Linked DNA regions of Homo sapiens: all the other regions are linked to region 1. Evidence: fine-mapped expression QTL. A gene starts in region 1. Each other region holds a variant in brackets. All regions are shown on one strand. Distances are between the middles of the regions. Region 1 holds the start of PSME3IP1 (proteasome activator subunit 3 interacting protein 1). Region 2 overlaps PLLP (plasmolipin). Region 3 overlaps CPNE2 (copine 2).

Region 1 (4,000 bases):
AATCACACTAACTTACGTTCACGCAGCTTGTAATTTGTACTTTCACATACTGCGCTGGTTATTTTACAGTAGAGACTTAAGGAGGTTAAGTCACTCCACTAAGCAAGAACAGATGGTAGGTAAAGGGCCTGGAAAACTGCGGGATTCTACTCAGTCGATAACAGACACTTCTAACCCTTCAAAGTTCAAAGTACAACACTCCAGGGGGAGCAACCTCTCTCAGAGAACTATACAAGACAGGACCTCGGAGTCTCAGCCGACCGCCTCGGTCTCAGTCGGTTTCCCTCCCCAAAGACGGGGAAAGTGAGGCAGCAGGAGAGACAAATGCCTAATTTGGACTCACGCAAGGGGTGTTGGTGGGATAGACTCTCCCCACCCCACTCGGGCAATAAGCCCGGAAGCAGTTGGATCCTGTGTCTGGGACACCTGGTCGATCTACAGAGAGAGGGAATAATTCCCGTTTCCCTTTCACTACTCCCCACTCTGGCTTTCCTGTGGATGGAGGTGTCTTCTTCCCATCACCGCCCAGAAATCCCCTCTCCCCAAGGTCCTTACCCAATTTTCAGCTCCGGCTTCCGTAGTAGGACATTCCGCTAGTTCTAGCTCCTGCTTCCTAGCCCCATTCTCTCTCTATCCCAAGGCGTTTCTAAATCTCCCCGGGGAGGTATGCCTCATCCGTGCCACCTAGACCGTAAACTCCACAAAAAGAACCCTCCTAAAGCGTCCCTTCATCTACCCTTTCTATCCCGGGCACCCCTGAGTAGGTCAGGACCCCATCGGTACCAGGAGCCACCCCAGGAGATAGATAGCTGCCTCTCACCTGGGCCCTGTTAGCCGCAGCCTCCTCAGAAGGGCGACCCCCAAGAACCTCTTCTGGTGAGGACCCCCGAAAGAGGGAACACCCTCTTCTAGGAACCTCTTCAGATCCCTCAAGCGCGGGCCTCGGTGGAAAACCTCTCGGCTGTTTCTCAGGTTCTGACCAACGCCACCTCTCTCCCGGGCCCTTTCCAGAGCCTACCCCGGCCCCAGTCCGGTCCGCCCGCCCCAGGCTCGAGCGGCTGTTCCCCTCCCTCACAGACGTCCCCAACCCTCAGACTCCCTCCCGTTCCGCGTGCCCAGGGCTCAGAGCAGCGCGGTCGGGCTGTGGCACTGACTTTCTCTACCTCCCGGGCCCACCGGAGGGAGGGGGCGGCGGCGGCGGCGCGACTCCTTTGTGACAGGTCCGAGAGAACGGCAAAGATGGACGCGAGGCCACGGCGCTGCCATTACGCGCAGAGCCCACCCCCGCTTCGTACCGCCCCAGCCCTCCCTCAGTCCCCTAGGAAACGCCCCTTCCTCGGTGGCAAGCCCTCTCCTTGACAGCCAATCACCTTTCAAAAATCGTGTCACGTGATCAGCGGGACCGGCCCGCCCTCCAGGCGCAGACTGGCCAGTCCTCATCCTGAGGCGTGAATGGCCCAATCAAGTCTCTCCGGCTCGTTTTCAGGGTACCGGATTTCCATCGGGCTCCCGGGGAGGAAGAGCTCCGCGGATTGGGTTACGTCGCCGGAAGTGGGGCGGGACTCTATTGTGGCGGTGAGGAACAGGAAGCCCTGAAGGGTCAAAAGAAATACAAAAGCAAAGGCTATTTTCTTTTTTTTTTTCTTTCTTTCATTCATTCCTTCCTCTGTTTCTTTCTTTCTTCCTTTCATTTTTTTTTCTTTTTTAAGAGCGAGCGGCTCTGCGGTGGCGGTTTGGGGTGGGCGCCGCCGAGGTGAGGTCGTCTCGCCTCCCGCGCGCCGGTAGGTGAGTGCGGCCTCGGTCCTGGCCTGGCGGCGACACCTGGGTTCCAGCTTCCTTACGGAAGAGATGAGCTGCGGCTGCTGTTAGGGTTAGGGCCAGGCCTGTTCTCAGTCCGCGCACCCGCTCCTTGTCCGGAGTAGCCGAAGCCTGGGGCTTGCGGGCCCAGCCTGAGGGGAGCTGAGGGTGCCCGCGGGAAGGCATCTGGGTCGCGGCGAGGACCCTTTCAGGCGGGCCCAACACTGCCGGGCGTTTAATGGGGTTTCCCCAATTTTCTGCTAGGTAGGGCCACCCAGGTTTCAAGTGAGTAGCAGGCTCCGTTCCAGAGGTCTTGGAACAGGTCCAGGTTACTCACTCGGATGTGCGGCGTCTGGTTGGAAATGGTTGAATCCCAGAATGGCAGTGCAGGATGGGAAGCACATTTATTGTGTGCCATGTACCAGTTGCTGTGCCAAGCGAATTTTCTATTACGGAAAACAAGCCAGCTGGCCCGTTTTGCAGAAAACTTAAGAAACAAAGAGAGTTGAAGCGTCATGCTTGAGAGTTGGTGGTCCTTGTGACTGTCAGTCCACACAGAGGAAAGGGGGAGACCTGTTTGTTCGTAGTCGTGGTTCTTTAATGTTAGTGGAAAACAAGATCTCCTGGGGCCCTTTTAAAATGCAGTTTCTCAGACTCCCGCACGCTCGGGTAGCCCGACTGGTTAGTTCAGGAGTGGGACCCAAGAAGCCAGATGCGAGCCTGGTGATCGGAATTCCCGATGACCTCTTGCCTACCACCTGTGACATAAGATTTGTCGATTCATCAGTTATTTGGTGTATTCATGTGTCCACAGGGACACCATAAAATGGAAGGCACCCTTCTGAAATATTTGAAGGGAATCAGTGGGTAGACTCCTTTTTGATACAAAGTATTGAGCCGACAGCAGCTTTTACAGTCTTTTAGTTAGATGACCTGCGAACAATTTGTAAGGATCTGAAAGTAGAGGCTGCCCGATTATCTTTCTCAACTGAAGTCTTCATGTCCTTACCCTGTGGGGAAGTGCTTCATGATATAAGAAAGGAATAATTGTGTCAAAACCATTTAGTTGATTATCAGTCTTCACTTTCATCTTCCAAGAATGGTGATGCTTGGTTAGAATCAAGCTGCTGCTTTAGCTATTGAAAACCACGTATGTGGTAAATCAAGTAACAAGTGCGATGTACGTACAGGGTCAGTCATAGTGTAATTATGCCTTTATGGCAGCTAAATTAAGCATTTTCAACGTGTTCACCATTAGTCACCTTTTGAACATACTTTGTCTTCATTCTTAAATATTATGTTTCACTCTTTACTATAGAATATGTTGTTAAGATTGTTTTGTCTAAAATCAAGTATCGACAAGTTTAAAAAAAAGATTGTTTTGTGTTTGGTTTTCTGTATTTCCACTATGCTCTATGGAACTATGGGTTTGTTTTTGTTCAATTTGTTTGGTATTTATTAGACTTCTTGAATCTGTGGATTAGTGTCTTTCATTAATTCTGTAAAATTCTCAGCCATTTTATATGCATATATTGCTTCTTCCCATTGTTTCTCTTTTTTTTTTTATCGATTTAACTAAACCTTTTCACTCTTTTCTCTATGTCTTTTACTCTGTTCTTTCGTAGTACATTCTGGATAATTTATTCTCAAGTTATTTCCATTGTTATTAAACTCGGCCTCTGAAATCTTAAATCATATATTGCAATTTTTAGTTTCTGAAGTTCTGTTTGGTTTGTGACACTTTTACAGTTTTTTATTTCTTACTATTTTGAGGCTTAATTTTATTTCTTTAAACATGGAAAGTATAGTTGTTTTTATAATCTCTATGTTTAATTCCACTGTCTGAATTCCCTTTGGGGGAGTCTGTTTCTGTTGTCCATTATTCCTGCTGTTTTACTTCCCAGTTCACCTTTACTTTGAAGCTGTAGTTCTTTTGGGCACAAGATTAAGATGGAGAGGGAGGTAGTTGTCAGACTCCACTCCCTGGATGGGCTCCTGGCTTGAACTTGTTTCTGTTATCTCATAAAGGCACTGAAACTTTAGCTTTTAGGTCAGAGAAGTCCTCAGGATGAAATCCATTTTGAATATTGGGCTTAATTTCTGGTTTTCACCTTCTAGATTGTGTCCAAATTCTTTACTATCTTGTTAGCTTTTCTATTTAAGAATTAATATTTTTGGCTGGGCGTGGTAGCTTACACTTGTA
Region 2 (4,000 bases), 81 kb before region 1:
CTTATCTGTCAGGTGGGTGGGGCTGGCACTGACGTGGGTCCTTATCTCTGCCTGGGCTGTGCCTGGTGCTTGAATGTGGATACTGTCATTCTCTCAGTGAGGCCTCACCCTCCTGAGGAGCCTCACACACCGTGGCGAATGCAGGAAAGTAGGCCCAGGGCCTGACTTGAAAACCCATGTTCTTAACCCCTCAGGGTGATCATGACACCTGGCCATGTTGAATATTAAGCCTATGCTGGTTGCTGGTCTAAGTTCCTTGCTCAAAACTACCCTAGGGCCCAGGCAGGAGGATCAGTTAAGCCTAGGAGTTCTAGACTAGCCTGGGCAACATGGGGAGACCCCACCTCTACAAAAATTAAAAATAGCTAGGAGTGGTGGTGCATGTCTGTAGTCCCAGCTACTTGGGAGGCTGAGGTGGGAGGATCACTTGAGCCCAGGAGTTCGAGGCTGCAGTGAGCTGCAATAGTGCCATTGCACTCCAGCCTGGGTGACAAAGTGAGACCCTGTCTCAAAAACAAAACAAAACAAAACCACCCTAGGGGGTAGATACATTTCAAAGATGAAGGAAGATGAAGACAAGGGCACAGAGAGGCTAAGCCACTTGCCTGAGGTCACACAGCTAGTTAAGTTGGCAGGGCCAGAGCGTGAATTCAAGGAGTCGATAGGCCACCCCTCCAACAGAACCAATGCCAGTGTCACTCAGGTGAACAAGGTCATGACACCCATCCACAGATTCAGAGAGCAGCTGAGAAAAACCTATTCATTTCCTGGGGCTGCCGTAACAAAGTTCCACAAACTGGGTGGCAGAAATATATTGTCTCAGTTACTGAAATCAAAGTGTTGGCAGGGTTGCTTTCTTCTGGGGCTCTGAGGGAGAGTCTGTCCCATGTCCCCCTCCTGGCTTCTGGTGGTGACCAGCAAGCCTTGGTGTGCCTTGGCTTACAAATGCATCACTCTCGTCTCTGCCTCTGTCTTCACACGATGGTCTCCCCTTGTGGTCTCTGTGTCCACATTTCTCTTGCAAGGACACCAGTCATTGGATTAGAGATGCCCCCAATCCAGTATAACCCCCCTTAACTCGAGCATGTCTGCAAACACTATTTTCTTTTCTTTTCTTTCTTTCTTTCTTTTTTTTTTTTTTTTGAGACGGAGTTTCGCTCTTGTTGCCCAGGCTGGAGTGCAGTGGTGCGATCTCGGCTCACTGCAACCTCTGTCTCCTAGGTTCAAGCGATTCTCCTGCCTCTCCCAAGTAGCTGGGATTACAGGCACATGCCACCATGCCTGGCTAATTTTTTGTATTTTTAGTAGAGGCAGGGTTTCACCACGTTGGCCAGGCTGGTCTTGAACTCCTGACCTTAGGTGATCCACCTGCCTCAGCCTCCCAAAGTGCTGGGATTACAGGTATGATCCACCATGCCAGGCCTTGTTTTGTTTTGTTTTGTTTTGTTTCTGAGACAGAGTCCCACTCTGTCCCCCAGGCTGGAGTGCAGTGGTGCAATCTCAGTTCACTGCAACCTCTGCCTCCTGAGTTCAAAGTGATTCTTCT[G/C]CCTCAGCTTCCTGAGTAGCTGGGACTACAGACACCCACCACCATGCCCGGCTAATTTTTGTATTTTTACTGGAGATGGGTTTCTCCATATTGGCCAAGCTGGTCTTAAACTCCTGTCCTTAACTGATCATGCACCTCAGGCTCCCAAAGTGCTGGGAATACAGGTATGAGCCACTGCGCCTGGCCAGAGCCTGTTTTCAAATAAGGCCACATTCCCAGGTACTAGGGGTTAGAACTTGAACATATTTTGGGGAACACATTGCAAACCACAATAAGAGATGAGGAAAAACTTCCCTCAGAGTCAGTGAAGGGCATGCACCCTGCAGGAACCTGGCCTGTCTGGCTGTCAGTGTTGGCAGCTTCTGGGGAAACTGTAATAACAGGGTTTCACTGCAGCAAGGAGTGCCTCTTGGTTGGGCATTTGTGACGAATCTTCTCTCTGATGCCACAGGTGGTTTTAACAAAAACATCTCTTCGTTACCCAATTGTTTGGAAATTCTTTGAAGATGCAAAGGTCGTTTTTGACACTGTAGTCTTCATATGTAAAAAAAAGTTCCTAATCCAAATTATTCAGGTTTTCAGAAAAGCAAAAAAAAAAAAAAAAAAAAAGGCCCTGTGCCCTTGAGATTTCCAGACAGTTCCCTTTGTTTATCTGCAGGACCTGTCTGGGGAGGCATGGCAGGGACCTCAGAGAGCTGGGAAGGAGGGGAGGATGTGGTTTGCCTGTGTGTGTAGGAGAGAGACAGTTAGATATTCATGTAGACACCTCCAGAGAAACACGGGGACAGACGAACATGTAAGCAAGAGAGACCTGCAGGGCCCAGGGGTGAAGGCATAGAGTTCTGTTCTCAGATACCCACGTGGCACCCTCCCTGCCCCTCCCTCACCTCCCTGGGTCTTTGCTTATCATCACCTTGCCAGTGAGATCTTTCTTGGCCCCTTCTCCATAGACATTTGTTAAATATATTAACCCAGAGAGATGCCCACAGCGAGGCCTGTGTTGGGTGCCCTGTTCCGAGCAGGGTCTCTCTTGGGGGACTGGGCTGGGGGCTCAGGAACCAGGAGAAACCAGTCTGTCTGGTTCAAATGCAGGAACGAACCTTCCTTGTTCTAGGGCAGAAACCGAGGCAGCTCCGCAGGCACAGAGCCAGGCAGCACAGCCAGAAAGAACGCCAGAAATTCCCAGTCCTTATCCACCGGCTTCATCTGGACGCTGTGTTCGCTGATCTGGAAACCAGGGGTGGGGCTGGAGCACAGCACAGGGCGGGGCAGGGATGGCGGCGGGCAGTGGGGGGAGCCTGGGTGCCCAGCCCAGACTGGCTCCTAGAGCCAGCTGAAGTGTCCTCATTTTTTACACTTCACTAAATAACTCATAGTAGCGCAGGTTCCAAGGAAGCACGGATCTGGGTTCCTGTCCTTCCCTATCCTTTTAAAATTTTTATTTATTTTTTGAGACAGGGTCTCTGTCACCTAGGCTGGAGTGCAGTGGCGCCATCATGACTCACTGCAGCCTTGACTTCCCAGGCTCCATTGATCCTCCACCTCAGCTTCCCAAGTATCTGCGACCACAGGCACATGCTACTATGCCCAGCTAAATGTTATATTTTTGGTAGAGATGGGGTTTTCCATATTGTCCAGGCTGGTTTCGAACTCCTGAGCTCAAGTGATCCACCTGCCTCAGCCTCCCAAAGTGCTGGGATTACAGGTGTGAGCCACTGCACCCGGCCTCCTGCCCTGTCCTTTACCCACAGTGACCTCAGGCACATTGCCTCCTGAGATTCCCTTTGGAAGATGGGAATAACAGATAGAACATTTGAGGAGGGTCTGGTGATGGAGGAATCAATGAGATGTGTCTGGCACAGAGCGAGAAGGCATTGAGTGGTTATTGTGACCTAGGCTGTGAGTCATGGGACAGGTGATTGATAGGCATATGATAGTGGAAACCTGAATTGGTCTTTTCTTGATTTTTGGTTCATTGCATTTTCTGACTTTCCTTTAGTTAGTTGGAAGCTGGCAACACAGTGGCAGCGGAGGCCCATGAGGAATTGGCTTTAAATGAAAAAATAATTGTTTATCTTGGACGCACCCAGTTCTCACCTGGAGAAGGGACGGAGGCGTGCTGCCCGAAGTGTTTGTTCTCCTTCAGAACACTGGCCTCCCCCCAGCTCTGGGGGTTCGTGGCCTCTCCAGGTGTGTCTGTTTCTGGCAGGGTGTTGTTCTGAGACATCCTGCCCTGGGTCCACACTCGTAAGGGCTCTGCCCCCAGCTTGGTGTGTGACAGCGGGCAAGGCCCTGTGGCTCCGCCCTGGCTTCCTCACCTGCCTACCCTCACCTGGCCTGCTTGCGGCGGTGAGAGTGCTGACGGGCAGCAGAGGCTGGCAGGGTGCTGTGTGTTGGGGGGTGGATCCCTGGAGCTTCACCCCAGTGTGGGGAGGAGCAGGTGCTGAGCCCTGG
Region 3 (4,300 bases), 57 kb after region 1:
ATCTTGTCTCTGCCATAATGGCCCCAGCCATGGTCAGTGAAACGGATGGTCTCTTCTCAGCCTTACCTCACCAGGCCCAGGGGCAGCCTCCAACCCCACTCCCTCCTCCCCGAGCCCTGACTGCTTGGCTTCCTCAACGATCAAAATGGGTTCATAACAGGGCCTACCTCATTGGCTTTGGTGAGAATTAGTTGAAACTGGTAAAGCAGGCAGAGTGGTATCTAGAACATTCTAAGGGCCCAATAAATGCTGCTACTTATGGGTTTGCTTTCTGCCCCTCCCTCCTTCACTTCCTCCCTGCTCTGCCCCCGGGCTCAGTCTCCGCTTCATCTGCCTGGCTCTCTCATGCAGCTGTCTCTTTTTTTATTTTAATTAATTAATTAATTAATTTTTTAGAGACAGAGTCTCACTCTGTCACCCAGGCTGGAGTGCAGTGCACTCATAGCTCACTGGGCTCCAGGGATCTTCCTGCCTCAGCCTCCCGAGTAGCTGGGATTACAGACTCCCGCCACCACACCTAGCTAATTTTTGTATTTTTAGTAGAGACGGGGTTTCACCATGTTGGCCAGGCTGGTCTCGAACTCCTCACCTTGTGATCCACCCTCCTCAGCCTCCCAAAGTGCTAAGATTATAAGTGTGAGCCACTGCACCCAGCCAACTTTTAAATTTTGTAAAGCCAGGGTCTCACTGTGTTGCCCAGACTGGTCTTGAACTCCTGGCTCAAGCAATCCTCCTGCCTTGGCCTCCCAAAGCATGAAATTACAGGTGTGAGCCACTGCACCCCGCCTCATGTGGCTGTTTCTCACTCCACCTGTCTCCCTAGCAATCTCATCCTCCCAGAGGTGGCACCATGGGTCCTGGCCCAGGTGGCCAGGTCTCTCTCTGTCTCCCCAGAGCCCAAACCCATTGACCCATCAACCACTTATCTTTTTTTTTGTAACAGGGTCTCACTCTGTTGCCCAGGCTGGAGTGCAGTGGCACGATCTCGGCTCACTGCAACCACTGCCTCCCGAGTTCAAGTGATTCTCCTGCTTCAGCCTCCCAAGTAGCTGGGATTACAGGCATGTGCCACCACGCTGGGCTAATTTTTGTATTTTTAGTAGAGACGGGGTTTTGCCATGCTGGCCAGGAAGATCTCAAACTCTCTGACCTCAAATGATCCATCTGCCTCAGCGTCCCAAAGTGCTGGGATTATAGGCGTGAGCCACTGTGCCCAGCCATCATCCACCTTTCTCCTGGGACTCCCACCTTACCATCTCCCCTGCTGAGCCTAGCACCCACCCCGTTCCTCATCTCAGTAAGCAGCACCACCCCCGCCTCAGTGCCCAGTTGGAAATCTTGGTGACCTCTTCGGCCCACACTCACTTGGTCACACAGAAAGTCCTGGCCTCTGCCCTGAGTTTCCTTGCCTTCGCCCCTTCTCTCCACCCTCCACTCTGCCCACTCTCGCCCTAGCCACGCCCCACTCAGCAGCCAGGAGAGGCCTTTAGAAATGCCAATCTGCTGATGAGCCCCTATGTGGTCCCTGCAGGGGTCCCCGTGGCCCTTTAACGCCCACATCTGTCTCCACCCTGCTCACCTCCAATGGAGGGTCTATCACCCACCTCTGCCAGTTCCTCCAGCTCGTCCTGCAGGCTTCGCACAGTCTGTTCTCTGCCCTGAAGGCTCCCCCTGCCCCACTGCCACCTCTAGTCACTCTGCTACTTCCCTTTCCCCTCTTGGCTTAGAGCTTGCCCCCTCCAGGAAGCCTGATGGCCCCAAGCTGGGTTGGGTTACCTCCTCGGCTCCCCACAGGCCTACGGTGCCCCCACCTCAGCACCGATGACACTACCTGTCTTTAGTGTTGCCATATAGAATACAGGATGCCCACTATGACTCAGAAACAGAAAACAAAAAACTGCATGTTCTCCCTTATAAGACGGAGCTAAACAATGGGTGCACACAGAACAGACACACAGAGGGGAATAACAGACACTGAGGACTCCACACAGCGAGAGGATGGAGGGGTGACGGATGAAATGCCACCTACTGGGTACAATGTACATTATTTAGGTGATGAATACACTAAAAGTCCATATTTCACACAATACGTCCTCGTAATACAACTATACTTGTACCCCTAGATCCATACAAAACCTTGAATTTCAGATAAACAATGGATGATTTAAGTATAAGTATGTCCCATGAAATATTCAGGACATACTTATACTTTAAAAATTGTTTATCTGCACTGG[T/G]CACAGTGGCTCAGGCCTGTAATCCTAGCACTTCGGGAGGCTGAGGCCGGTGGATCACCTGAGGTCAGGAGTTTGAGACCAGCCTGGTCAACATGGTAAAACTCTCTACTAAAAATACAAAAGTTAGCTGCGGGGTGGTGGTGGGCACCTGTAATCCCAGCTACTCGGGAGGCTGAGGCAGGAGAATTGTTTGAACCTGGGAGGCGGAGGTTGCTGTAAGTGGAGATTGTGCCACTGCACTCCAGCCTGGGCAACAGAGCAAGACTCTGTCTCTAAATAAATAAATAAATAAAAATAAACACATAAAAATAAACATTGTTTACCTGAAATTCAAACTTAACTGGGTGTCTTGTATTTTGATTTGCGACATCTGGCAATCCTATCTGTCTCCCCCACTCCACATGGGTCTCATAAACAGAGAACATAACGTGCTGCCCCGTTACAGCCTCAGTGCCTGCCCAAGGATCAGGCTTGAGAAATGAGCGTGGCCTGGGGTGAACACAGGGAAGGCAGGGCAACAGGGCCCCAGCCCAAGACCTTTCCAGAGCTGATCCCCGAGAGGCCACACACACAAACCCCATCTCAACCAAAAGGAAACTAACTCCGGTTTCACTCACCTTCCAGTCTGGGGGTAACTGGGCCCCGAATCCCAGAGCTGGAAACATCTTATCACTAATCAGAGAGAGAAGAGAAACACACTGTAAGACACCTGAGGACACCACCCGACCCTCTGCCCAGGGCTGGGCCCACTCTGCCTCATACACTTCCAAGGACAGAAAGGAGGAGCTCACCACCTCTAGAAAAAGCTGTTAGGATCATCTACCTAATGAGCCCAACCCACCTCTGGGGACCTGGTGAACATGTGGCCTGACCACATCTATACCTGTGGCAGACACGACAATGGTACTTCTAACCAATGGGCCTGGGCACAGCTTCTAGATCCTTCTCAAACTGAGACTTCAGCCAGCCACTAAACCAAGGTCAGGAGGTCAAGATGGAAGTAGAATGAATGTACTGGCTGTCTCTCAGCCTCCTGCTCATAGCTGGGGAAAACTCTACTAATATGAGAACCCTCCTGTGGCATTCAAGGTCCTGTGTCATCCAGTCCCAGAGCCTAGTCTTATCTCCTTCCACCCACGCCCCTTCACACCCCACTCCCCTAGCCCTGGCCACTGGCCACTTGCTATTCCCCAAACACATAGGGTACCTTCACATTCCAACTTCAATGCTGTTGTGCCCCCATCTGTAACATCTCTCCCTAATCTGTTTCCTCTAGCAAACTCCTACTCATCCTCTAAGGCCCAATCAAAATGGCCCCTTCGCTCTGTAGATTTCCCTGATACCCTAAAATGCCTCTCTTTTTGTGCTCCCATAGCTCCTGCTTCACATGTAAACTGGTCTCTCAGAACTCCGACGATTTCTTCCTTATCTTCCTCTTTAAGTGAGAACTCCCTGAGGACAGGGACCACATTTCATTTGTATGTGCACTCAACAGACATCTACTAAGGATCCCTTTGGCTGCCGTGGAGGGGACACACAGCTGGGGGCCAGGGCAGAAGCAGGGAGACTGATGAGGAAGCTAATGAAATGATCTGGGCACAAAGTGATGGTGGCTCAGCCAGGCATCTAGAGCTCACTGGGGCCATGCTAAGTCTTAATGCCCATTAGACAGCTCGGTGATGGGCTGAATGGGCAGCTGGACACCTGGGACTCCACCCAACCATGCTGATGATGACTTCCACCTCCCTTGCTCTGCATGTTGTACAGATCCCTGGCTGCCCCTCTCTAGGAGGCCAAGTCCACACAGGGCTCCTGAGCCTGCTGTCTTTCCTGCCAAATCTCTGGCACCTGCTTCTTCCTCCCCTGTTCCCAATGTGTCAGCCTCCTGGTCATTCCATCCTCTGACCTGGAGCTCCCAATCAGCACCATCTGTGACAGTGATGTCATATCCTGTTGGTAGCCACACCTGCCACACTTTCACACAGCTTCCCTTCACTGACTTTCCGTGGTACCCAGCCCGACCCAAAGGTCCCCAGGAAGCAAGGTCATGGGAGGAGGGTCCGTGC

Evidence for each region. PIP is the estimated chance that this variant, and not a neighbour inherited with it, causes the effect. A credible set is the group of variants that fine-mapping cannot tell apart.
Region 2: its variant is the best candidate, but not a certain one, in a credible set for the expression of PSME3IP1 in subcutaneous fat (FUSION, PIP 0.60).
Region 3: its variant is the best candidate, but not a certain one, in a credible set for the expression of PSME3IP1 in whole blood (TOPMed, PIP 0.69).

The regions. Positions count from the first base shown.
Region 1 is chr16:57,183,606-57,187,605 of GRCh38, reverse strand. PSME3IP1 (proteasome activator subunit 3 interacting protein 1) reads left to right here and starts at 1,567. Exons shown (of 7, transcript NM_024946.4): 1 at 1,567-1,785. It overlaps RSPRY1 (ring finger and SPRY domain containing 1), which reads right to left and starts at 1,277. Exons shown (of 15, transcript NM_133368.3): 1 at 1,155-1,277. RefSeq lists enhancers at 1-581, 1,893-1,942 and a silencer at 983-1,192.
Region 2 is chr16:57,265,019-57,269,018 of GRCh38, reverse strand. The region is part of intron 1 of PLLP (plasmolipin); the gene reads left to right. Among named protein-coding and RNA genes, the nearest start is that of PLLP, 18 kb to the left of the region's middle. The variant G/C (reference allele first, on the strand shown) is at 1,547.
Region 3 is chr16:57,126,455-57,130,754 of GRCh38, reverse strand. It overlaps CPNE2 (copine 2), which reads right to left. Exons shown (of 16, transcript NM_152727.6): 12 at 2,852-2,906. Among named protein-coding and RNA genes, the nearest start is that of CPNE2, 36 kb to the right of the region's middle. The variant T/G (reference allele first, on the strand shown) is at 2,235.